Homo sapiens: one gene and its partners. The protein of the gene in region 3 purifies or fractionates together with the protein of the main gene of each other region. This does not show direct contact. Each region holds a gene or a part of one and is shown on either strand. Other genes may lie near its edges.

Region 1 (3,500 bases), on a different chromosome or scaffold from region 3:
CACACAGAAAAAAAATGATGAAAAATAAAAAACTAGGGTCTCAAAGCTTGAAGATATATCTTCCTTCTGATTGATAAAATACATGGTATGTTTTAAAAATTAAAAACGCAAGCTTTCTCAATTACTCCCAAAATAACACTGTATAATTCAATCTCTCACATGGCCAAACTAAATTATGAACATCCATGACTGTGATCTTAGTCATAACTCTTTATCTACAGCCTCTTGAGATTCAAGTACAATCTCAGCTAGGTAATCTCTGATTTTGATTATTAAACTCTACTACAAATGATCTACTACAATGTTCAAAGCTATCAACATAGCCTTGAACAAAACACACAAGGTTTTGCATGAGAAAAGTAGTATTAATAGTCTTGAATTCTGAAGGCCTGAGTTTTAATCCTGATTTCATCCCTGTGACTTTGGTGCTCTCATCCTAATATAATAAAGCAATGTGTTCTATCTCAGGTTCCTAATCTACTATTATTAATAAAACAAAACTAAACAAAACTAACAACTACTCGAATACTTTGTAACAACTACTTCCACAGTGTTTCCAAAGGCACAATAAGTGACCAGATTTTAAAGTTTCTAGTAAAGATTTCTCCTGCCAATTAAACCCCTTTGATAAGAACATTAAATATTATTTTACTTACAGATAAATGTTGTCAAAAGTACCATCTTTTTCACAGATGTTTAAGACATGATTTAACATTTTAGTTCCTGTTAATAAAATAAATAACAAACACGTGACTTCATAAATCAACCTTTAAATTATGTATCTATCCACTTGCCATCTGAACTACTTATTGAGTCCTAAAAGAATTTATGAGGTATACACTAGATATCCTTATTTTCCAAAGTTGTGTTCTCTCTCTACAATAGCTACGTATGTTTAAAACTGTTAGCAGAAGACTAACCTTTTTAAACAAGCACTTCCGGGTAGAAGAAAAACAGAAAAAGCAGAAGGGGACGTAAACAGCAAATCTATGTAGGGCTTCCAATAGAATTATGTTAATAAACACTAGTTATTTTTCACCATATTTTACATAATTCAGTAACCCTTTCTCAGTATTCCTTAAAAAGACCCAAATTAACTTACTAGGTCAGACACATTAACAAATAATATGTTTATGCTTCTCTGAAGAAGTAAAAAAACCACAATTTTTTACCTATTCCTAGCCTTCGGTAAGGTGCCAGACATCCTAGTGTCATGATGTAAAGTCTCTTCTGATTCTGTGAATGATCCACCCTACAGCATACTGCACCTACAGCAATATCATTGAAATAGGCTGCCAAGGAAAACATAAAGATATAATGTTGAACAGACAGAATAACACATTTAATCTTTTTCCCTTTTAAAGGACTACACTGTTCCTATCAACATTAAATTTCATCAACTATTTCATGAATATCAATGATCTCAAAGCTCTTATGCCATCTTAGGAAGTTTAAGCCTCCTCTAGAGTATAGCTTAAAGTGAAAACACACAGGTATACACTAAGAACACTAAGCATTTCTTTTTAAAATTCAACTGTTTTATTCAACTGATTTCTCTGAGATTTTTCTCACAACCTAGACCACTCCCATTTCCTCACTTATAAAATAAACAAACTAAATTAGTTAACTTCTTCTGCTCTATAAAAAACTAGGGTTCAAGAACAAAAAGAAAGAAAAGAAGGGAGGACAAAAAAAAAACTATATTATACCAAGTTTTGCTAGCTCGCCAACCTCCAGCACATCCTTGTAGAACTTGTCATTGTAGCTGACTGGAAAGATGACCTGATTCAATCTTTTCAACTGTTTAATATTGTGTGGTGTCACATCTCCCAGCTCGATCCGGCTACTGGAACAAATCAAAATGTACTCAATAAAACATAATTAGCCCCATTTGTTAATATGAACATATGAAAGGGGTACCAAGTCTTTTTTACATGATTGATAAATCCAACTCTTTCAGAGTTGATTTATAAGCAAATTATCATTTATAAGCAAATTTTGACAGTCATTCAATACAAATTCTACTCATAGCTTTCATATAATTACATACATTCAGGGACAAATATGGTACACAACGACTACTACAAAGGCCAGAATAACATTCTGCAAGTGTCAAAATTTTCCTTGTAGTTCATAGTTCAGAAAAATTTAGATACACCTATTTCTGGTAAAATTACAGTTCCTTTGCCCAAGTATCTTATTACTTCTAGTAATTTATTCTAAGAAAACAATGGAGGTATGCAATACCATGCACATTCTATTCATGAAAACCGTGGTCTATGAACTACCTACATCAGAGTCACAGAGGTGATATGCAAAATTCACATTCCTGGATACACATACCCCATTTTCAGAACCAGAGTTGCTGGAAACGAAACAAAGGAATCCACCATCTTGAAAATCACCCCAGGATGAAAACTATCCATTAAGAAAGCAACAGGAGTGATATGGTTTGGCTGTGTCCCCATCCAAATTTCATCTTGTAGTTCCCATAATTCCCATGTTGTGAGAGGGACCCGGCGAATCATGGGGGCGGTTGCCCTCATGCTGTTCTCGTGATAGTGAGTTCTCACAAGATCTGATGGTTTTATAAGGAGGCTTTCCTTCACTTCGCTCTCATTTCTCCTTCCTGCCACCATGTGAAGAATGATGTGTTTGCTTCCCCTTCCACCATGTTTATAGGTTTCCTGAGACCTCCCTATCCCTGCGCAACTGTGAGTCAATTAAACCTCTTTCCTTTATAAATTACCCAGTCTCGGGTATGTCTTTATTAGCAGCATGAGAAAGGACTAATAAAAGGAGCATTCCTAAGAAACCACTTGTAATCAAAACAATTGGGTCCATGGAAAAGATTAAAGCGAAAAATTTTCAGTTCCAATTTCTAACAAAGTATCAAAGGTATTCTGCCTGCAGAGCTGTAAACAAAGAATTTTTAATAGCTGAAGTGAACTTCAATACTGTTAAAGGTGGATCAAATGTGATAAGGCAAACCTGACAGCATTCTACAATTTTTTTGCTCCATCCGTATTATTTGCCCAAAAAGATGTTGTAGCATATTGTGTTTTGTAGAGAAAAAGCACATTTCAACTATATTTAACAACGGACTTTTGTTAACATATACAAAAACATGCTTGAAAGGATTTTAATTTGTAGTAGAAATTGTAATTTTAAAAACTGTATTTTGAAATGTTAAAATTTAGATTAAAATGCAAAAAAACAAAAACAGAAACAAAAAAAAACAGCTGGGCATGAAGGCCTGTAATCCCAGCACTTTGGGAGACCGGGGTGAGAGGATCCTTTGAGCCCTGGAGTTCAAGACCAACCTGGGCATATAGCAAAACTTTGTAAGAAATTTTTTTAAAAAAACTTAACCAGGTGTGGTGGCGTGCACCTATGGTCCCAGCTACTTAGAAGGCTGAAGTGAGAGGACTGCTTGAGCCTGGAAGGTCGAGGCTGCAGTAAGCTATGATTGTGTACCATTGCATTCCAGCCTGGGTGAC
Region 2 (3,500 bases), about 64 Mb from region 3:
GAAGATCACTTGAGCCCAGGAGTTCTAGACCAGCGTGGGCAACATAGCTAGACCCTGGCTCTACTAAAAATAAAAAACCAGCCAGGCATGGTGGTGCATGCCTGTAGTCCCAGCTACTCAGTAGGCTGAGGCAGAAGGACCACTGAAACCCAGGAGGTCAAGACTGCAGCTATGATTGCACCACTGCTCTCCAGCCTGGGTGACAGAGTGAGATCCTGTAGCTACAAAAAAAAAAATTATTATTATATCCTACTGACACAATTTTAGAGAATGTGAAACTTGCTTGTATGTTTACAAAAAGGTGTGAATCTGGAAAAGAATCTGAATACAGAAGACTTTAAGACTTTGAACAATACAGGCACAAAGGAAAATGGAGAAGGTTGGTGCAAAGCAAGCAAGTGTACTCAAGTTCTAAATGTTGGGAGTCATGTTTACATTAAGGCAAACTGAGACAGGAGATTTTAAAATTGTTGGGTTTACCATTCTCTAGATGTTGTTGACGATCCTCTACAGCCTCTTGTACAGCTTGGTAGCGGCCCAGAAAGCTATCGAAGCCCCGCTGGACAAAATCTGGGGCAGAAGGCTGAGACATCAGGGCCGAGCAGCTTGCACGAGCCATTTCAATTTTGGGGTGAAGGCCAAGAAGATTTGTCAATTCCCGCTAAGGAAGAGAAAATACGGTCACACAACTCACTGAAGATGAACATCCTCACAGGAAGTTAATCAGGGCAGCATTAACTTAAAGTTCATGATACGAGAAGCCCTCCTTAACTCTGGAACTGCACATAGAATTCCTCCACTTTCCAGACCGTTGGCTCCTTACCTGACAGGAATCCTTCAAGCTTGGCAAGGACTGCCGGGAAGATTCAGAAATGGAAGTGTGTTTTACCCACTCCTCCTTTGTCTTGATGACCTTTTCAAGCTCATCAAGCTGCTTGAAATAAGCATTTATATCTTCCTGTAGCTGAATCTTTCTTTCTAGATCTTCCAAATGTTGAGATACATTCTTCCATTCTGATGAAACCTTCTCCAGAACATTTTTTATTTCTTCAGTAGGAAGGCCTTCTATGCAGACATGAAAAACAAGCAAACAGTCTATATATTACAAAATGTGTCTTGAATTTATTCTGAACATTCTAACACTCAGAATAGTGAGGCAATGTCACACATAATGATCACTTTCTTAAGTCCCTTTTAATACAACAACAAAAATTTATAATGATGCACTTAAAAATAATGATGTTTATTTCAATTCCTTGAACAAAGAAGAAAGACATTTTAAAATAACGATTCAGGCACATCAGTAGAACTTCAGCCACTGCCTTTTCTAGATAATATATGTTTCCATCCATGCCATGCTTCTACTCTGCTAGTTTATCACCTGAACCAGTGAAATAAGATCAACTACCTTGATCTGTCTAGGCCCGACTTCAGAAAGAAGACCCTTTGTCCTAAGAAAAAAAGAAAGCTGGCTAGAAAAACTAGGAGGCAGCTCAGGTCTTGGTGACCAAAGCACAGTGTCATATAAATTAAAAAATGAATGGCGAGGATGCCTTATGCTGGGAAGCAACCTGGTGAGTGCAGGAATATTAAGCCAGCAGCCAGGCTCTAGAAGCATCAGCAAGCCCACTGGAGACCTTGCACATAAATAAGCAAATACCAAAAGACTGAGGCAGCAATAAGATGATCTACTTTAGAAACACATCAGGGAAAACAATGCCACCATTTTTATTACTGAAATCTTATCATTTTATTTGTCCGATATTTTTGAAAAGTAGAGAATGTTCCTAAAAATAATAAAGTCATATATAATAATAGGTTTTATCATAGTCCTTCCCTTAATCTAAAATACCTTCAAATCCTCTAAAATGACTATGAAAAAGTATGGGAAATCTTCAAAGGAATCTTTCTATTCGGAGGAAAACATGCATACCAAAAGGATGGCTTCACATTTTTATTGAGTAGGAAAGCAATAAAACAATCCTGCTTTATAAACATATATGATCAAAATCCAGGATAATGAGAGCTTGAACTAAAAAACAAAGGCATAAAAACAAAAAGTCATGTATGATCCACAGACAATGCAACTTTGAAAATTTTTATAATACACTGTGTCTACTGAAAATCATAAATGAGGGCATATCATGCTGTCATTTGAATGTGTCACCTATGTCAATTGCAGAAGTTCACTGTTCACCACCATCTCTCAGGTAAGAGAATATGAGACATAAGCAAAGCATTCACACCACAAGCCATGCTGCATTACCCCTGTTAATGGGGAGAGTATACAAAACAAATCACCATTTTCCTAACAATATGAACAATGGAGATATGGGTCATGCCCCTGCCCCATCATTTCTATTCTAGGCAGGCAAAGGAATAGTAACACCAGCCACATCATCTTTATGTTGGACAATTCATACTAATCAAGGAAGAAAATTAAGTAGGTAAATAAAATTTCTGAGATGGAAAATTACCACTACTCATCTAGAAAACTGGAAAGAGGTGCTCACTTCAAGAACAAGGGCGGTTAAAACAACTTCAGTTATTTTTTCACTGACAATGTCTTACAAGCCATTCATTTTGCCTCTTTAAACCAATTTTAAACATCTGAATCTCCCTTTCTCTAATCCTGAGATATTGCTGGTTACAGTGATGCCCGGTAATGATTCAAACACAATTTACATCTTATAAAAGGAAAACTGCACATTGTCTTTAAAAATAGTTGTTTTACTCCCAGAGATCCAGAGTTTAAAATTTTCTATTTCTATAAAACACAGAGTTCTTAGAAGGTGACTAGTCAAAAGGCAAAATCAACAGAAGATCACTTTATTAATTGTCTAAAAGGGAGAACATAGAACACATTCCTGCCACTCAGTCTCACTTGACTTTACACTTCTCAGTCTATCACTATTGGAATCAAGGGAAACGTTTACAAAACATAGGACCTTCACCAAACTTCCTGGGCTTATATGCTTAGGCAACCACAATGGGCATTGATTCATAAAGCCACATTATCCAGATGCCCAACTACTCTACTGTATTTTACTAGATGAAGAGCTCTAGGAACAAGATAAGCTAAACGAAGAAAACCAAGTATATCAGCTATGAAAGTCAAATGAAACACACTATTTTATTTATTATTATTATTATTATTATTATTATTATTATTATTATTATTTTGAGACAGAGTCTTGCTCTGTCACCAGGCTGGAGTGTAGTGGTGCAATCTCAGCTCACTGCAACCTCCGACTCCCTGGTTCAAGCGATTCTCCTGCCTCAGCCTCCTGAGTAACTGAGATTACAGGCATGTGCCACCATGCCCAGCTAATTTTTGTATTTTTAGTAGAGACGAGGTTTCACCATGTTGCCCAGGATGGTGTTGATCTCCTGACCTCGTGACCCACCCACCTCGGCCTCCCAAAGTTCTGGGATTACAGGTGTGAGCCACTGCGCCCAGCCTCACGCTATTTTATTTTCTAAAATTGTTTCTATGCTCT
Region 3 (3,500 bases):
TTGTATTTATATGAACTTTTACAATTTTAAAAAGTATTATAAGGACTTTATGTACATTGATACTGACAGTACAAATGTTTGACTATATTTTGAAGGAAAAATGCAATTTGGCATTTGTTTTATGTCTTTTCTTGTGATATATTTTGTTCCCCTTATTTAGATAACTCGGGAACTGTTAACCAAATTATGATGATGGCAAACAACCCAGAGGACTGGTTGAGTTTGTTGCTCAAACTAGAGAAAAACAGTGTTCCGCTAAGTGATGCTCTTTTAAATAAATTGATTGGTCGTTACAGTCAAGCAATTGAAGCGCTTCCCCCAGATAAATATGGCCAAAATGAGAGTTTTGCTAGAATTCAAGTGAGATTTGCTGAATTAAAAGCGTAAGTATTAGCATTTTAACTATGTTCAACTATGTTACATAATATGTAACTACACTGCAAAGAGAGAAAATAAAAAACATGGCAGTATTGTGAGAAAATATTAATTTTTTTACCAAATACTTTTGCTTATAGTTAACAAGAGACTAATGTAAACTCTTTTCTATGCACGTTTCCACAACAGTTTACTTATTTTAAACTGCCTAAAAAGATTTTTTTAAAATAACTTATTAGTATTTAATTTTACCCACAGAAAAAAGCAATATCCCATGTTTTTTGGAAAATTGAATGAAGCATTATCAAATTTAAGTAGCTATGTTCTTTTTCTTAAATTTTGACTCAAATCTTTTATTACAGTATTCAAGAGCCAGATGATGCACGTGACTACTTTCAAATGGCCAGAGCAAACTGCAAGAAATTTGCTTTTGTTCATATATCTTTTGCACAATTTGAACTGTCACAAGGTAATCTGAAAATGTCAAATTCAAATTTTAAGTAAAGGATAACTTATTACAACTTACTTCCTAATATTAAATCATATATATGAAGTGGAAATTTGAGGCAAAAGACATTAAAGTTGATCAGATGAGAATATGGGGAGAAAATGCCACCTAAATGTAAATGCAGAGAATATCTGTTATACTAGCTTTTCCATGTATAAAGAGTAATCCAGGGAAATGAGCATGAACATTGTGTATGTGCTACTAGTTAGATTCAGGAAACATCTAAAGGAAAGTAGCTGCTTCACTGAGTATTTGTAGGAAGAAGGATATCAGATATTTAAGCTAGAGCTTTAAATATCTAGAGCTTACATAAACTTTTCTTATGCTATGGTTTCATAGCACCAAAATGTACATTAAAGTGTAGCTATGTAACTTGGTGGTCAAGTAAACTATATATCTGTGTGTGTGTGTGTGTGTGTGTGTGTGTGTGTGTGTGTAGCGTTAATTGGTAGTTCTTTAAAATAAAAAAGTAAACTGCTGTAGAAACTATTTCTTGCTCACTTGGTTCTTCATAGTCTGGATTTTTTTGGGTAGGACCAAGACAATCTCTTCCTAAGACATTTTTAACCTGGCCATTCCTTAGTCTTTTCTCATTTTCCAGGGCCTTTGGATACACCCTCAGTCTGCCCTCTGGCCAGGTGTTTCCATTCTCCCACTGCCTTGTTTCTGCTACAACTGTGATCCAATTTACTGCCAGTGATAAACATATTAACACTATTGGAAGAATCCCCATGATGGTTTCCATAGCAGGGATTGGTCACTGGAGAGTATTCCCCAGGATTGAGCCTGGAGAAAATAATTATATGACTCAGAAATAATTTGAGAACCCTGAATTGTTACCCATTCAGATGATTTCTGAGTCCTAGTAATTGTCTTCTCCAATATGTCCTTTGCTCTATCAGGTTACTTTTTAGAACTATTATCCCTTTCTTCTCTAGAAAAATGGATTCCTCCTTGCTTGTTAGAGAAAATTTGGCAAGGCTTCTTTCTCTCCATTCTGCTTGAAAATTTCTTGAGGTATTGTGGCCTCTCAATAACAACCATAAATTTTACATGTTTAGAACATGTAAATATTGAAACTCTTAAATTGAGTTATCTGTAAAAAAGACGAACTTTATCTATACCACTTTATCTGCAATGTGGTAGTAATGCACAGTGATGCAATGTGGTCAAATGCATTGCACAGTAATGCAGTGTGGTCAAATTATGATTATTTTGAGCACAGTTGATGGCTTGGCTGTCAGGAAATAATGCAGCATCCCTGAAGTCCTATGCAGAGTCTGGTGTGTGAGTATTTTTATAGGGATGGAGGACATTTCAGTTTTTACCAGATTCTTAAAGAAATCTCTGATCTCAATACTAAGCTATCTGATTAATTAAGCTTCTTAAGCCTTTCTCTCTTTTCTTGTGCTAAAATACACAATACATGAAATTCTACCACTACTTAGTAAATGTAGATGTAAGCACTATCAAAGATATTTTTAAAAATTTATAAACTACCAGAAGCTAGAGATCATCTCTTAAGCATTTTTATACGCTAAGTACCAAGTGCATAGCATAGCTCAATGGCTCCCATAAATGTTGATAATATTCTGTAAGATATGTGATGTATACATTTAATATTTATATGTCAAATGCTAGGGGTAAGTTTACCAATTTTTTTGGTAATCTGTCCATACTCAGAAAGGTAATTATGATAGTTCCTCAGTTATTCTGCATTCTTTTTCAGGCTGGTATAGCTGAGTGTGACAGCTAAAGATTAATCTGTATTTATTATGTTTTTCCCCGAAAATCCTTTTGATGGAAGATGCTCTTTAACAAAAGATGTCATCCTTCCCTTAACTAAATGTCATTATGAATGATACTTATTATAGCATGTTGTAAGAGACTGATGCTCTTGGCACTTTTGTAACATCTAGAATGCCCTCCTGTTTCTAACTGTTGTGATTGGCCTTTGCTGTCCCCTGTTGGTAACTGCTTTGTTACACTTCTGTTACTTCTGAAAGTGGACAGTGGTGATAAACTAATGCAAAATTACGTCAGCTACATATTGCAAGGAAACTATTTGGTATGCATTGTTATCAGAAGAGAGTTGGTTATCTGCATAAAAAGTGAGAGATTGCTTACTTGCCTATGAAATAAAATACATGAGCCTTGGAATAAATATTTTTGCTTAAGTCTTTTTGATTTTTTTTTCTAGGTCCTGATGAATACGTATCTGGGTGGTCTGGGTGGTGGGCATTTTACTGCCTAAAAATGACAATTATCTTTTGCTTTGTTAGGTAATGTCAAAAAAAGTAAACAACTTCTTCAAAAAGCTGTAGAACGTGGAGCAGTACCACTAGAAATGCTGGAAATTGCCCTGCGGAATTTAAACCTCCAAAAAAAGCAGCTGCTTTCAGAGGAGGAAAAGAAGAATTTATCAGGTAACTATTAAGGTATACTAATACTTTCTGTGGTAGGTAGTACTTCAAATAAAGATTCGGGATAATAATTTATAGAAAAATATTATTTATGTAGAATGGTTAAAATCTAAGATTAAATTGTAAAGGAGGTAAGACTGAGAAGTAAAAAAGTCTCTACAACCCCATGCAAATTTGTCTTTTTTGCTAACTAA
Region 4 (3,500 bases), on a different chromosome or scaffold from region 3:
AAAGCACAGGGAGTATGTCTCTTTTATTCTTCATCGAGTCATCATTACAGTGCCCAGCACACAGCAAGTATTCAAATGTTTGCTGAATAAATGAACACATGCCAAAGGTCTGAGAGTCCGTATCGCAGAACCTCAAGATAGAAAGAAACATTACAGGTCTTCTAATCCAATCATCTTATTCTGAAACAATGGAGGTCAAGGATGCCCTATGATTATTTCATTTACATACCATATGTTCTTTTTGTGGCACAATCAAGGTATAATTAGTAAACAGAAGGAGCCCTTAATGATGAACTGATCCAATCCCTTCCCTTCACAGACGCACAAAAGGGCTTCTATTTTTGGTAATCTTTCCATGGTTGTATTTAGTAGCAATGACTCAGAATCTTACAGAAAGAAAGTTAAACTGGCCCCCACAGGAGGATTTTAGAAAACAAAAGAAAATGAGCTCTAACAAATGTTGATGAAATAGTCCACTGAGTAGTTTCTGGGTTGTTGATACAGGCAGCACTAAGTGTTGTAGGGTCCCAATAAAGGTACATAATTAGGGAACCATTTCACCTCGGACCCCCAGTGGGGCTGTGGTTCTGCCAAAGTTAAGAGAACTGAACTTTCCATCTTTCCTTGAAAGAAAGGAGCGAATGAGAAAACTTGCAGCTGAAATAGAAAATGCTAGTTGTGGCAAACAGAGCAAGTGCGGGAGCTGAAAGGAGGAAGGGTGAGAGATCAAAGATTGAGAGGGAAAGAGAAGAGGGATATGAACACAGAGAGAGATTAAAAAATGGGGTGAGGCTAGAGGGAGGAAGGAGGGGAGGAGGGAAGGAGAGAGAAAGAAAGAAGGAACTACAGTGCGACCCAGAGAGAAAAAAATGGAGAGTAGAACAGAAAGTAGTATCCCCATATCAACCAGTAAAATAAAATAGGGAAATAATAAAAACTACATTAAGAAAAACTAAATTAATAAACGAAGCATGCAGTAAGCCGAGATCGCACCACTGGACTCCAGCCTGGGCAACAAAGCGAGACTCCGTTTCCAAAAAAATAAAAATAAAAATAAAGGAAGCATGTTTGGAGCACCTGCAAAAAGAAAACCTAAAGATAGCAGTAACAGTGCTGAAACAGGAAACAATCATCCCATAAGGAACAAGAACATTCTAGAATCTACAGAAAAGTAGAATGGAAAAAAAAAAAAAAAAAGAATCCAGGCAGTCCCTGGTGAGAGGGATATTCATATCAGAAAAAATGTTCTCATTTCTACATTTATGCTTTGCATATAAAATGTTCTTATTCTAGTGTACCAATCTCAACAAATCCTTAATCATCTTCCTAAAGCCCTGAGTTGAAAAACTTCCCTCTACGAATGTGTATGCATATATGTGTATGTGTGTTTGTGTACAGACACACTATTTAGAATATCTGTAACCTGTGTGACTACTATGCCAACTATTTCACCCTAAAAGGGCAAACTCCTAAATGTTATCTGAGTTTAACTTAATCTGAATATGCTACAAGGTCTCGGAGAATCCCTTAACACAAAACATTTCTTCTGAAATTTTGAGTTCTTTTAAGAAATATTCTGGTGTATTTTCTTTCTCCACATAACAATCTGAAGATACCATGTTAGTAATCCAGTCCTTTTGGGTTAACTCCTTGAAGATGTTTCTTGCTTTATTTAAGTCCAAATAAACAGGCATCATTTCTGTAGTTCTTCTGTAGAAGAAAGATAAATTAAGTATTTTGTTAGATTATCTCCCTAGATGCAAAGTTTCTTCTAGAGCTTGCCCCATTTCAACAAAATTACCTTTTTTCTCAAGTGTGTAACTATAATAAATTGTCTAAATCCAAATGCAATGTAGTAAACATGATTTTTTCTAAAATACCAAAAAATATCAAGGCTGCTTTAACTGTATATACCATAAGACTTTAACTCAGATGCTGTCTTATCTGTAATAGATTAAAAAAATTAATATTTCCCAGTTTAAAAAAAATAGCCACAGAGGGAGGCTGAGACAGGATAATCGCTTGAGCTTGAGAGATCAAGGCTGCAGTGAGTTGTGAACATGCCACTGTACTCCAGCCTGGGTGACAGAGCAAGATCCTGCCTCAGAAAAAGAAAGAAAGAAAAAAAGAAAAGAAAGAAGGAAGGGAAGGAGGGAGGGAGGGAGGGAGGAAAGAAGGGAGGGAAGAAGGGCGGGCCATAGAAAAAAGATAAAGGTTTTTCGAAGGAAGGAAGGAAGGAAGAAAGGACTGACCACAGGAAGGAAGGAAGGAAGACAGAAAAAAGATAAACATTTTTCCCATTTCTAAAAAATACATCCATTTCTTCCCGTTAAATGGACTGAAAAGTGGGAACCAAAAGAGAGGGCTTCTGACCAATAATTTCTTAGTACTTCAATATAAAGTTATTAATGAAATGTTTAAGTATCTTCTCATGGAAGACCTTCTAATGGAAGGTCATGCAGCCATTAAATTATGTTACCGGCTGGGTGCGGTAGCTCACACCTATAATCCCAACACCAGGAGGCTGAGGTGGGAGGACTGCTTGAGGCCAGGAGTTCAAGACCAGCCTGGGCAACATAGCAAAGCTGCTGTCTTTACAAAAGCTAAAAAATTAGCAGGAGGTGGTGGCACGTGCCTGTAGTCCCAGCTACGTGGAAGGCTAAGGTGGGAGTTTTGCTTGAGCCCAAGAGTTTGATGATGCTTGAGCCCAAGAACCAAGATGCTGTAACTCCAGCCTGGGTGATGGAGTGAGACCTTGTCTCAAAAAAAAAAAAATTACCAAAAAAGATAGAATAAAATGTAAAATGGGCAAATATTAGGTAGAAAACAATGTATAAACAATATGATCCAGCTGGGCATGGTGGCTTACACCTGAAATCCCAGCACTTGGGGAGGCCAAGGCTGGTAGATTGCCTGAGCTCAGGAGTTCGAGACCAGCCTGGCCAACATGGTAAAACTCTGGCTCTACAAAAAAATACAAAAATTAGCTGGGTGTAGTGCCATGTGTCTGAAGCCCCAGCTACTCAGGCTGAGGTGGGAGGACTGCTTGAGCCTAGGAGGCAGAGGTTACAATGAGCCAAGATCACAGAACTGCATTAAAGCATGGGCAACGACAGGGCAAGACCCTGTCTCAAAAAAAAAAAGAAAAAAACAAAGAACCAGTATGATCTCATTTTTTTTAAAAGAATACATTTGCATGAAAAAATATAATCATATACGTAAGTGCTAGCTATTACTCTTAAGTGATGGATTATGGAAGATTTTCACTTTCTTTTTATTGTGTGTATTTTTGACATTTTCTACAGCAAACATATATTTACTTTTGTTAAAAAAAATTTTTAAAAAGGGATGAACACACAGCTATTTTACTCTCCAATCATTTTTTTATCCTCTTTCACGGTACTCTTAATACAATTTAATACAATTAATTTATTACATATATTACCTTTTCCTTAAAAAACTTCCAGTTAGACAAGCAGGAGATGAAAATATCTCTTGGA
Region 5 (3,500 bases), on a different chromosome or scaffold from region 3:
CAGCACTGGCGAGGCCCCATACTGAGGAGGAGACACTGGCGATTAGGATGCTTGTCTCACCAAGAGGCCCAAGCTCTAACAATCTCAGCCCCTTTCCATGTCTGAGCCATTCCTAGGACCCTCTCCTATCTTCTCAGGTTTCTCTGCCCTTCTTTGTTGACGTCTTCCCCAGTCGCCAGTCATCCCCAGACACTACGCCCTGAACCCCACCTCTTTGATGATGGAGTAGCTGAGTAGGAAGCGGAAGGAGGGCAGCCGGGTGACAGGCAGTGCTTGGAGGCTGGGCATGCTTTCCCACGGCAGCTTCTGCAAGTCCTGGGCAAAAAGCACTAAGAGGTTACTGTCCCCAGCCAGGTATATGCAGAAGTCAGAAGGGGCATGGGGATGAGTTGGTATTCACTCCCCACTAGACACTGCCCCTCTGCCCCAGCTCCTTACCTTGTCTAGGACCAAGACAAGGTGGCTATTGCTTGGTACTGTCAGGCCCTGTAGACGTCCTACTGCCTCATTCAGGAGCTCCTGGGCTCGCTCTGGCTGGGTTGGGCACAGCCCGTAGGCCAGGGCCTGAATGTCCTGAGGGGTGAGGGCACCGGCACCACTGAGCATGATCTGCAGGGAAACAGTGGTGGTGAGCACCATCTTCATTCATGATAGCTGCTGGGAAAGGATTAAGTCCAGTTTCTTCCCTTTCCCTGTTTTCTTTTTTTTTTGACAGAGTCTTGCTCTGTCGCCCAGGCTGGAGTGCAGTGGCGCAATCTCAGCTCACTGCAACCTCCACCTCCCAGGTTCAAGCGATTCTCCTGCCTCAGCCTCCTGAGTAGCTCGGACTACAGGCATGTGCCACCAAGCCCAGCTAATTTTTGTATTTTTAGTAGAGATGGGGTTTCACCCTGTTGGCCAGGATGGTCTTCACCTCTTGACCTTGTGACCCACCTGCCTCGGCCTCCCAAAGTGCTGGGATTATAGGCGTAAGCCAAGGGGCCTATCCTTTTTTTTTTTTTTGAGATGGAGTCTCACTCTGTCACCCAGGCTGGAGTGCGGCGATCTCAGCTCACTGCAACCTCCGCCTCCCAGGTTCAAGCAATTCTCCTGCTACAGCCTCCCGAGAAGCTGGAATTACAGGTGCCTGCCACCATGCCCAGCTAATTTTTGTATTTTCGTAGAGACAGGGTTTCACCATGTTGGCCAGGCTGGTCTCGAGCTCCTGAGCTCAAGCAATCCATCTGCCTTGGCCTCCCAAAGTGCTGGGATTACAGGTGCAAGCCACTGGGCCTGGCCCCCTTCCCTGCTTTCCTCACTCACTTTCAGCAGAGTGCGGTCAGGATATTTCCAGCCACAGTCCTGTAGCAGCTCCTGTAGGCGGGAGGCCTCCTGGGCAGGGCCGGGCTCCTCACTGGACGGCAGCAGCAGCCCCTTCCAGCAGCCCAGCACAGACTTCTCTAGGGAAGCGATGAGAACCTGAATGCAGAGGGCAGACCCTTCAGTCAGAGAGGAAACCAAGCTTCTTTCTCACAGGCACTGACATTTTGGAGATGAGAAAATGCGTTTTCCAATGTGCATGTCTGTCTTACGTATCTTTCTGCTGGGAAGCTGATAGTTGGGTTTAAGTCGTTTTTTTTCTGCGTATCTTTAAATATCCATTCCCATATATTCTTCAAGTTCTGGGCTCTGAAGTTCTCCCCAGGTGACATATTTTTAAATTTAGGTCTACACTTCCAGAAGGGATTTGAAGTGGCTTTAGCACTGACCCAGGCCGTCTGGTAGAGAAGTCACTGGGACCCCCCGGGTCATTCCTAGAGCAGGCCTGACCCCACCCCAGAAGCACACACCTCCATCCTGTGGTCCAGTGCCAGCCGCCCTGTCCACCATTCTCGCTTGTCAGTACAGCTGCTGTTCTCTTTCTGTGCCTTCTGGATGGCATCAAACTCATTCAGGACTGAACGCAGATGAAGCTTTGGGAGATGGGGCTGTGAGAGCTCTGCTTGTCCACGTGATCACCATCTCTCCCTCCCTCAACACAGAATGTGAGCAGCTTGACCCGAAGCCCAATCCAGCCCAACTTTGCTCCATGGCCCAGGAATCCTACCTTGTTCTGGCCAGTGGGAATCTGCACACTGACTGGGGGACTGTCCTTTTCCAGCCGGGTCAGCAGGAGGGTGTTGCCCACGGTTCCGGGCTGGAGGGTGGCCAGGGCCAACACACACACAGTCACCCCTGACACACAGGATACAGCCAGACTCATTCAGCTGTTAAAGGAATTCCCTTCCCTGTCTTGGGCACTCAATTCCTATCCATCACTCAAGCCAGCATCAAGAAGCCTTCCCTGGTCACTAGAGGTCAAGGTGCTCTCCCTTGCTCTAATAGCTCCCTGTGCACAGAGACCATGACTTGTACTTTGTGTCCCTCACAGCAACTAACAAAGTGAGGCACTCAAATCATGTGAATATGTTTCATGTTAGCACAGAAGACCCCAGTCATCTGAACTCACCTCTGAGGAAAGACACTGAATTTGCTGGTAATTCAAAGTTGAGGTTTAAAAAAAACAACAAACCTTCCTGATGTAAGATGCTAACAGGTGAAAAGGTATGACATAAGGGTCATAAATCTATGTAAACTAACCAATGCCTAAAACTCCTTCACCCAGCTCCCAAGTAAGAAGATGCAGAAGAGGACAGAGGAGCCGGCCAGAAGGCTGCCCGCATACCACTGGGGATCAGAGCCAGGCGCTCCTGGAAACTCTCCTTTTCAGGCTGGGGGAAGTGGCCAGATTCCAAAGCCCTGAAGGAAAAGAGGCGCTGGATGCGGGCCAGGGGGACATCTCCAGGCATCTCCTGAAGGCTCAGCCCCTGCAGCTGGTCTGCTATTTCAAGTGATCCTCGGTGCTTCTGGGCCTTGCTGCAAGCAACACGGGGAGGGGTGAGGTCCCATTCCTTCAAAGTCTGGACCTTCTCTCTAGTCTGCCCCAGCAGGAGTCTTGGGGATGGTCAGCACCCACCTGAGCTGTCTGTGGAGGTGGGTGAGCAGCTGGTGGCGACAGGTGATGGAGACAGACTCGGTGACAAGGAAAGCAGTGGCATAAGGATCCCGGTGGCCCAGGCACAAGGCCAGGAAGCGGCAGAGGTGGGCATAGAGCCCACTAGGAGGACAGTGACTAATGCCCCGGAAAGCAACACTCAGGGAGTCACAGATGGAGTCCAGGGTAGAAAGACCTAGAAGAACGTCAGGACACTTGGTACAGCTGAATTCCTTATTTCATAGTTGATAGGAACTTTCCAAGAAGGAACAGTCCCTATCTCATCTCCCACATGGCAAACAGCAACTACCATTTATGAAGGGCAATGTGCCAAGTGGGGTGCCATGCAACTAACAGGCATCAACTTATTCCACCATGCTCCCTAAACCCCATTTTTACAGAAGGAATAGAAGCTTGGAGAGGTTAAGTGACCTGCACACAGCTCATAGACAGAGTGCTGGGGTTCAAACACAGGTTCAGAGGCTAC
Region 6 (3,500 bases), on a different chromosome or scaffold from region 3:
CAGTGGTGCGATCATAGCTCATTAAAAAAATTATTTATTTTTTATTTTTTGAGATAAGATCTTTGTCACCCGGGCTGAGTGCAGTGGTGTGATCATGGTTCACCGCAGCCTCCACATCCTGGGTTCAAGCGATCCACCTATCTTAGCCTCCCAAGTAGCTGGGACTACAGGCGTGTACTACCACGTGTAGCTAATTTTTAAGTTTTCTGTAGAGACGGTGTCTTCCTATGTTGCCCAGGCTAGTCTCAAACTTTTGGGGGCCTCAAGCGATCCTCAAAGTGCTGGGATTACAGGTGTGAGCCACCATGCCTGGCCTTCCTAGGGTATTGATTCAATTTTATTTTACAGATGGCTAAAGAAATTATAGTTTATGAGTTTTCATTACCAAACGTTTATTGAATTTCCATGTCCTTGGTAAAGGCAAAATTAGAATGATAGCATTCTCATTTTAAGAGTTTATTTTCTTTAACATTGGGTAACCTTAATCTCTCCATCCTGAGATGATTAATTTAAGCTTAAAATCTTGAAAACCATCTTGTCAGATGGAAAAGCTGTAGCATACCAATTCATTGACAGAGTTACATGGGACCTTTTATCTTTGGTATTCCCTCCACCAAAACTTCCCCACGAAAAAATTCCCATCAAAGTCTAGCCATGCATATGTTGGTATCCATAACACATTAAAATAGTACTGTCTTCTGCATGTTTTAAAATGTTATCAAATATCAAATGTTATCAAATGATACCATATGTATCATTTTGTGACTTAGTGATTTTGGTGAACATTGTTTTGTAGATATACCTGTTTTGATTCTAGATAATTTATTTTAATAGCTATATAGTATGCATATGCCACAGTTTATTGGTTTTGTTGATCAATTTGTTCTTTCTTGCTTTTTGCTATTGGGAATATTTGTGTGTATGCTCTAGAGTTTATCTAGGGCAGTGTTGCTAAAATTGCAGGACTTGTTAGTGATCTGGAAATTAGTGGGCTGAGATCAGCATTTTCTTTTAAAATGAAATTGAACAAGATAAAATAGGATAGAGTAGGGTAGAATAAAATAGCATAAAGTAGAAAAATGGAAAAGATATCAAGCATCTCATGTAGGAGGAGTAAGAATTATTTTGTGAAATTTCAGTTATATATACATATATAACTGAATATATATATATATATATATATATATATATATATATATATATATATCATGAATCCTTTGCTCACTTTTGAATTGTGTCGTTTGTTTTATTCTTACTGATTTGCAGGCATTCTTTATATATTTTGTGTATGGATCCTTTCCAAGCTGTCCATTATGCATGTTACAAATATCTTCCCCCATTCTGTGGCATATTTTTCCTTTTGTTCAAGTTTACTGCTCTTTTCTTTGTGTTTTATGCTTTCCTGTCTTATGTATGAAATCTTTAACTGCTCTGAGGTCATAAATATATTTCTATACTTCTAAAAGTTTGAAAGTTTTGCTTTTTTTTACATTTCCACATGGATTCTCTTTTATTTTCCATATGGAAATACTATAGATTAAATTCTCCTTAGTGTGCATTTTTTCATGTGTTTCAGTGTCCAAATTGTTGAAACCCTCTCCTGAAGCTTATAAAGTATGATATTCTAAAGTTACATTTTATAACTTTAGTATTTTTATAATAGAGCATCTCTGCTGCTGACTTTTTAATAGTAGATAGCACAGATACAATTTTTAAGCTGTATTTTTCTCAGATAAAGAATGGATTGTTAAATGTGCAAGACAGTATATTCTTTTCCTTCTGTTTTTCTCTAATAGAATTTATTTGTGTATTTATATTTCCAGTCACATTAACTTTGCTCTAGAAGACAACTTTACAAGGATCTAAAAGGAACAGGATTAAAGATGACTGAATACTGGGTTCCAGAAATTTAAAACAATCAGGTACAAAAGTTTTTGGAGGGAATGCTCCCAGCCAGTCAGTATAAAATAGAACTGTTGAGAATGTACACAAGAAAAACTTAAAGTATCTAGCCCTGAAATACAGTGGAGGGTCCCAAAACAAGGGCTTTGGAATAGTCCTGGTTCAAATACTGGCTCTGACACTGATTGGTTGGTGACTATTGGTCACGTTACTGAAATGTGTGAATAAAATGGAGGCAATGATTAACCTGTTTCATTTGGATATTATAAAGATTAAATAAGGTGAGGCACTTAGTGCCTGGCACAGAATAACTTTATTTTTACTGTTGTTATTGCTGTTGTTATTTAGAATACATTTTATCACATCATGGATATGGCTTTCTGTATGTATATTGTGAATTGTTATTTTAAGTATATATATCAACATATTGTTAATAGCCTGGTGAAATCACATGGATAACAGGGTAAGGTAATCTCCACGTGTAGTGCACAAACTATACATGCAAATTGGGGATGATAGTTTTCTTTATTATGTATGCATCACATTGAAATAATGTAAAAAAAAAAGCCAACCATCTCCCACAATGCTAAAAAATTCAAAACACTTTTTAATAGTATTATACAATAGTAATTAATCTTGATTTATTTTTAAATCTTGAAGGACTTTCTGATTGACAAATATGAAATTATGTTAATCTTACATTTCATTCAATTTGAATCCTGCATGTCATTTCTTTGAATGTGGTAATTTCCATGACATACATACAATTATGTCTTAACCTGATGTCAGATAAACAGAATGGCCTGTTTTCCTACCATTCTAATTTTAAAGAGTTTAATTTTACTTGAAATTGATAAAAGACACTGAAAAGAGGTTATTTCCTACTCAAAAGCCCAGGATCGGTTTTTCATGATTTTAGCACATTAGGAAGATTTCCCTTCTGCTAGGAACGAAAGGGGGCCTAGGGTAGTGCAGTGAGGGGCAGTCACATCTCTACTTGGTCCCTTCTTTTTTCTCTTCTCTCCCTCTTTCTTCTCCTCTCCTTTTATTTTTTATTCCAGTAAACTTGGGGCAAATATGGAAAAAGTGTTTCCTGATAGGGTGAGGCAGAAGGAGAGGGAACTTTGGTTACAGGCCAGTTCCAGTATACAAAAAGCTGGGTTCTAAGGATGCTTTGTATGAATACGTTGCGTTTTACTCTGAGCCATGGGCTGTGGGTTATAGCAATGAAGGAATCGTCTGCCCTTTTGAAGAACTTACCAATTAATAGAGAAGGTACATCATACAAGAATAACTGTCATATGAGGCAGAATTTGAAAAATGCCTTCAATGTAGTTAAAAACAAAACAAAAAGTGCTGTGGAAATACAGAGAAGAGGTCCCAGCCCATTTGGGTAATCAGGATCCACATTGATGTAAATCTCAGTGGCAGTCATGCTGGGTCTTAGAGAAAATTAGGATTTTAACAGATCTGCTAAGATGCCATAGATAATATGTAGTAAGTATTAATTAAAATGACAGAATATCTTTCCATATTGTCAATCAGATCGGTTTATAAATTTTTAAGTGAGAAACTTCTAAGTAATCTTCTAAAAAGCA
Region 7 (3,500 bases), on a different chromosome or scaffold from region 3:
CTTAAGCAAATTCCCATTGCAGGTAAACATGTAATGGAAGTGATTTATACCTTAAACTCAATTACTTTTAGGATATTAGTGGCAAAAACTATATGCAGCCTGAGTTGGATGCTCTCTTTGATATTACCTTGATAGGCTCTACAGTCCTCTACACTGTATTCTTGAACAGCGTTAGCCTGATTAAATAAAACTGAAGAGATTTAAAAGCTATACTCAGACTTTGCAAATGTTAAGTCCTTTCCTTTCAACTCATCTGCCCTTTATTCAGCACAAGGGATATATTGCAATATAACATCAATTCTTCTTGCTGTGTGTTCTGCATATCATCTGTTCCTTAATCATTGCTCACCCTCCTAGACTGATGCAATCTTATCCATGCTACCTCTCATTTTCAGTACTATGCTCCCTCTAATCTATCACTAATCACTAACTCCTATTACTGCTCTTAGGAGATTAAGTCCTATAGTAGTTTCCAAGTGTCCTAGAAATTAATTCCAAGATCCTTACCTTACCTCTGTTTCCAGGTCTTTAATAAGGTGCCCCAGATTACCCCTCCTCCCTTATCTTCTTCATCATCCTCCCTCTGCCTGTTTTAAATGCCCTTCACCTGACAGCTTTGTTTCCAGTCAGGGACTTCTTCCATGCTGCCTACATGGCTAGAATGCCTCCTTGCCCTCAGGGCAACCGACTGGTCATCTTCCTCTCACCATTTAAACTTCACTCTCCAAGAAGTCTTGTCAGATACTCTGTTAGGAGATACTACTTTTACTAAAATAATGGATCACAACCCTGGCTATACCCTGGAATCACTAATGTGTGACAAGTTAAGCTTCATCAGTATGTTAGGTGCCTTAAAGTAAAATACTGATACCTAGACTACATACCAGACAGAATCTCTAGGCAAAGGAACCAGATATTGGCTGTGGTGGGTTGCTTTTTTTTTTTTTTTTTTTTTTGGTCTGTTTTTTTCCACAGCCCCACAGGTGATCTATTGAGCAGCCAGAGTTATAAACCACCACAGGCTGAGCATTCTTTAATCCAAAATGCTCCAAAATCTGAAACTTTTTGAGCACCAACATGACACCATAGTGGAAAATTCCACACACGACCCTGTGATGGGTTGCGGTCAAAATGCGGGCATAAGGCCGGGTGTAGTGGCTCACACCTATAATCCCAACACTTTGGGAGGCTGAGGCAGGTGGATCACTTGAGGTCAGGAGTTTAAGACCAGCCTGGCCAACATGGTGAAACCCTGTCTCTACTAAAAATACAAAAATTAGCTGGGGATGGTGGCACGTGCCTATAATCTCAGCTACTGGGGAGGCTGAGGCAGGAGAATCACTTGAACCCAGGAGGCGGAGGTTGCAGCGAGCCAAGATCGTGCCACTGCACTACAGCCTGGGTGACAGAGTGAGACTCCATCTTAAAAAAAAAAAAAAAAAAAAAACAGTTCATTCTCAGCACAGTATAGACACTCAGCAAATTTTACCACAAGTTTGTTCCCTGCTGATCTTGTCCTTCCTTTAGGTAAAATGTGGTCAAAATTAATGCCAAAACCTACAAAAACCTGGAGAAAAAGTCTTCAAAAGTAAATAAAACATAGCCCAGGGAGGAACCTGATTCTTACAGTTCCCGGGCCATAATGTGTAAGGAGTTTATATCCAAATTACACATAACCACCAGTAGCTGCATCCACTGCTGTTTCCCATGCTCTGCTTCCTTGGTCTCTGTTTGTTTGTTTTGAGACAGTGACTTGTTCTGTCACCCAGGCTGGAGTGCAGTGGCATGATCATAGCTCACTGCAGCCTCCAACTCCTGGGCTCAACCAGTCCTCCCACTTCATCCTCCTGAGTAGCTGGGGCTACAGTCACATGCTACCAGGCCTGGCTAATTTTATTTTTTGTAGAAATAGAGCCTCATCATGTTGCCCAGGCTGGTATCCAACTCCTGGCTTCAAGCAATCCTCCTGCCTAGGCCTCCCAAAGTGCTGGGATTACAGGCATGAGACACCACACCGAGCCAGTCTCTATTTACAAGTACCCAAACCCAGGATATCTAGAGAGAAACCTGCTGTCAGGTGCTGGTCTGCCAAAAACTTTAAATTGAATAAATTTGACCAGGTATGGTGGCTCACACCTGTAATCCCAGTACTTTGGGAGGCCAAAGAGGGAGAATTGCTTGAGGCCAGGAGTTCAAGACCAGCCTAGTCAACATAGCAAGACCCCATCTCTACAAACAATACAAAAATTAGCTAGGCATGGTTGTGCATACCTGTAGTCCTAGCTACTTGGGAAGTTAAGGTGAGAGGATTGCTTGAGTCCAGGACTTGGAGGCTGCAGTGAGCTATGATCATGCCACTGCACTCCAGCCTGGGTGACAGAGCAAAACCCTAAAAAAAAATTCCTTTTGATACCAAAACAATTTAAAAGTTATAAACTTATAACTCAAATAGGTACTAGAGTATAGGAAATAGGCTAATAATGACAATGCCAATTTCAATTGGCAGACTAGGGCTATTAGGGCTGATAATGCTGTATTAAGAACTCTGAGGCTGGCCGGGCGCAGTGGCTCAAGCCTGTAATCCCAGCATTTTGGGAGGCTGAGGTGGGTGGACCACGAGCTCAGGAGTTCAAGACCAGCCTGGCCAACATGGTGAAACCCCATCTCTACTAAAAATACAAAAAAATTAGCCGGGCATGTTGGCGCATGCCTATAATCCCAGCTACTTAGGAGGCTGAGGCAGGAGAATCGCTTGAACCCAAGAGGCAGAGGTTGCAGTGAGCCGAGATCACGCCACTGCACTCCAGCCTGAGCAACAAGAGCGAGACTCCCTCTCAAAAAAAACTCTGAGGCTAAATTCATCAGGAATGCTATGAGGGATCACGGATATTGGTCATAGAGGAGGAGAGATGGCATATATGACATGTATTTTCCATCCAAAAGGTCCATAACTTCAAGAGTCTAACAAAAAAGCCTAATCTTCAAAAGGAAGGTAGTAATAATGTACACACAAAATGGCATATTTCTATCAGTACTAATCACACTATAGATGAATCACTTATTTACTTGTTTGTGAGGGCAGGAACTATTTTTGCTTTATTCATTTTTTGTATCTCCAACACCTATCAGAATGCCTGATATATAGCAGGCTGTTAATAGAAGTATATTCAATGAAATCTGCAATAAAAAAAAAAGAAACATAAGACCACATTATTTTGATATGTCATAATCACTTAAGGTCTATACTCCAAAATATCACACACCCTAGTGAATGACCATCTGAACTTCGTGTTTTATTGTAGTGGGTAATGATATCATAGTGCACTATAACCTCAAACTCATAGGCTCAAGCAATTCTCCTGCTTTGGCCTCCAAAGTGCTGGAATTACAGGCATGAACTACCATGCTCAGCCTAGAAGCATGACTTTTAAAAGGAACACTTCCCTCACTCATATTACTCTTGGGAGATAGTTTAATATGGTGAAATTCTAATGTCTCTT

What was found.
Region 1: the proteins of TTK (region 3) and NAA50 purify together in Homo sapiens (affinity purification with mass spectrometry, with the first as the bait; one large-scale study listed by BioGRID). This does not show direct contact.
Region 2: the proteins of TTK (region 3) and UTRN purify together in Homo sapiens (affinity purification with mass spectrometry; one large-scale study listed by BioGRID and IntAct). This does not show direct contact.
Region 4: the proteins of TTK (region 3) and HERC5 purify together in Homo sapiens (affinity purification with mass spectrometry; one large-scale study listed by BioGRID and IntAct). This does not show direct contact.
Region 5: the proteins of TTK (region 3) and ESPL1 purify together in Homo sapiens (affinity purification with mass spectrometry; one large-scale study listed by BioGRID and IntAct). This does not show direct contact.
Region 6: the proteins of TTK (region 3) and RCBTB2 purify together in Homo sapiens (affinity purification with mass spectrometry; one large-scale study listed by BioGRID and IntAct). This does not show direct contact.
Region 7: the proteins of TTK (region 3) and KIF2A purify together in Homo sapiens (affinity purification with mass spectrometry; one large-scale study listed by BioGRID and IntAct). This does not show direct contact.

Annotation. Positions count from the first base shown.
Region 1 is NC_000003.12:113,722,250-113,725,749, forward strand, and holds part of NAA50 (N-alpha-acetyltransferase 50), read right to left. Parts: intron 1,847-3,500; coding exon 1,710-1,846; intron 1,293-1,709; coding exon 1,173-1,292; intron 724-1,172; coding exon 657-723; intron 1-656. UniProt on the Homo sapiens protein: N-alpha-acetyltransferase that acetylates the N-terminus of proteins that retain their initiating methionine. Has a broad substrate specificity: able to acetylate the initiator methionine of most peptides, except for those with a proline in second position.
Region 2 is NC_000006.12:144,456,335-144,459,834, reverse strand, and holds part of UTRN (utrophin), read right to left. Parts: intron 1,066-3,500; coding exon 824-1,065; intron 662-823; coding exon 481-661; intron 1-480.
Region 3 is NC_000006.12:80,007,649-80,011,148, forward strand, and holds part of TTK (dual specificity protein kinase TTK), read left to right. Parts: intron 1-160; coding exon 161-383; intron 384-737; coding exon 738-844; intron 845-3,165; coding exon 3,166-3,309; intron 3,310-3,500.
Region 4 is NC_000004.12:88,470,619-88,474,118, reverse strand, and holds part of HERC5 (E3 ISG15--protein ligase HERC5), read right to left. Parts: coding exon 3,446-3,500; intron 1,711-3,445; coding exon 1,617-1,710; intron 1-1,616.
Region 5 is NC_000012.12:53,288,799-53,292,298, reverse strand, and holds part of ESPL1 (separin), read right to left. Parts: intron 3,210-3,500; coding exon 2,996-3,209; intron 2,896-2,995; coding exon 2,705-2,895; intron 2,215-2,704; coding exon 2,087-2,214; intron 1,953-2,086; coding exon 1,830-1,952; intron 1,459-1,829; coding exon 1,303-1,458; intron 610-1,302; coding exon 439-609; intron 316-438; coding exon 211-315; intron 22-210; coding exon 1-21. UniProt on the Homo sapiens protein: Caspase-like protease, which plays a central role in the chromosome segregation by cleaving the SCC1/RAD21 subunit of the cohesin complex at the onset of anaphase. During most of the cell cycle, it is inactivated by different mechanisms.
Region 6 is NC_000013.11:48,523,081-48,526,580, reverse strand, and holds part of RCBTB2 (RCC1 and BTB domain-containing protein 2), read left to right. Parts: intron 1-1,823; 5' UTR 1,824-1,922; intron 1,923-3,500.
Region 7 is NC_000005.10:62,312,706-62,316,205, reverse strand, and holds part of KIF2A (kinesin-like protein KIF2A), read right to left. Parts: intron 1-3,500. UniProt on the Homo sapiens protein: Plus end-directed microtubule-dependent motor required for normal brain development. May regulate microtubule dynamics during axonal growth. Required for normal progression through mitosis. Required for normal congress of chromosomes at the metaphase plate.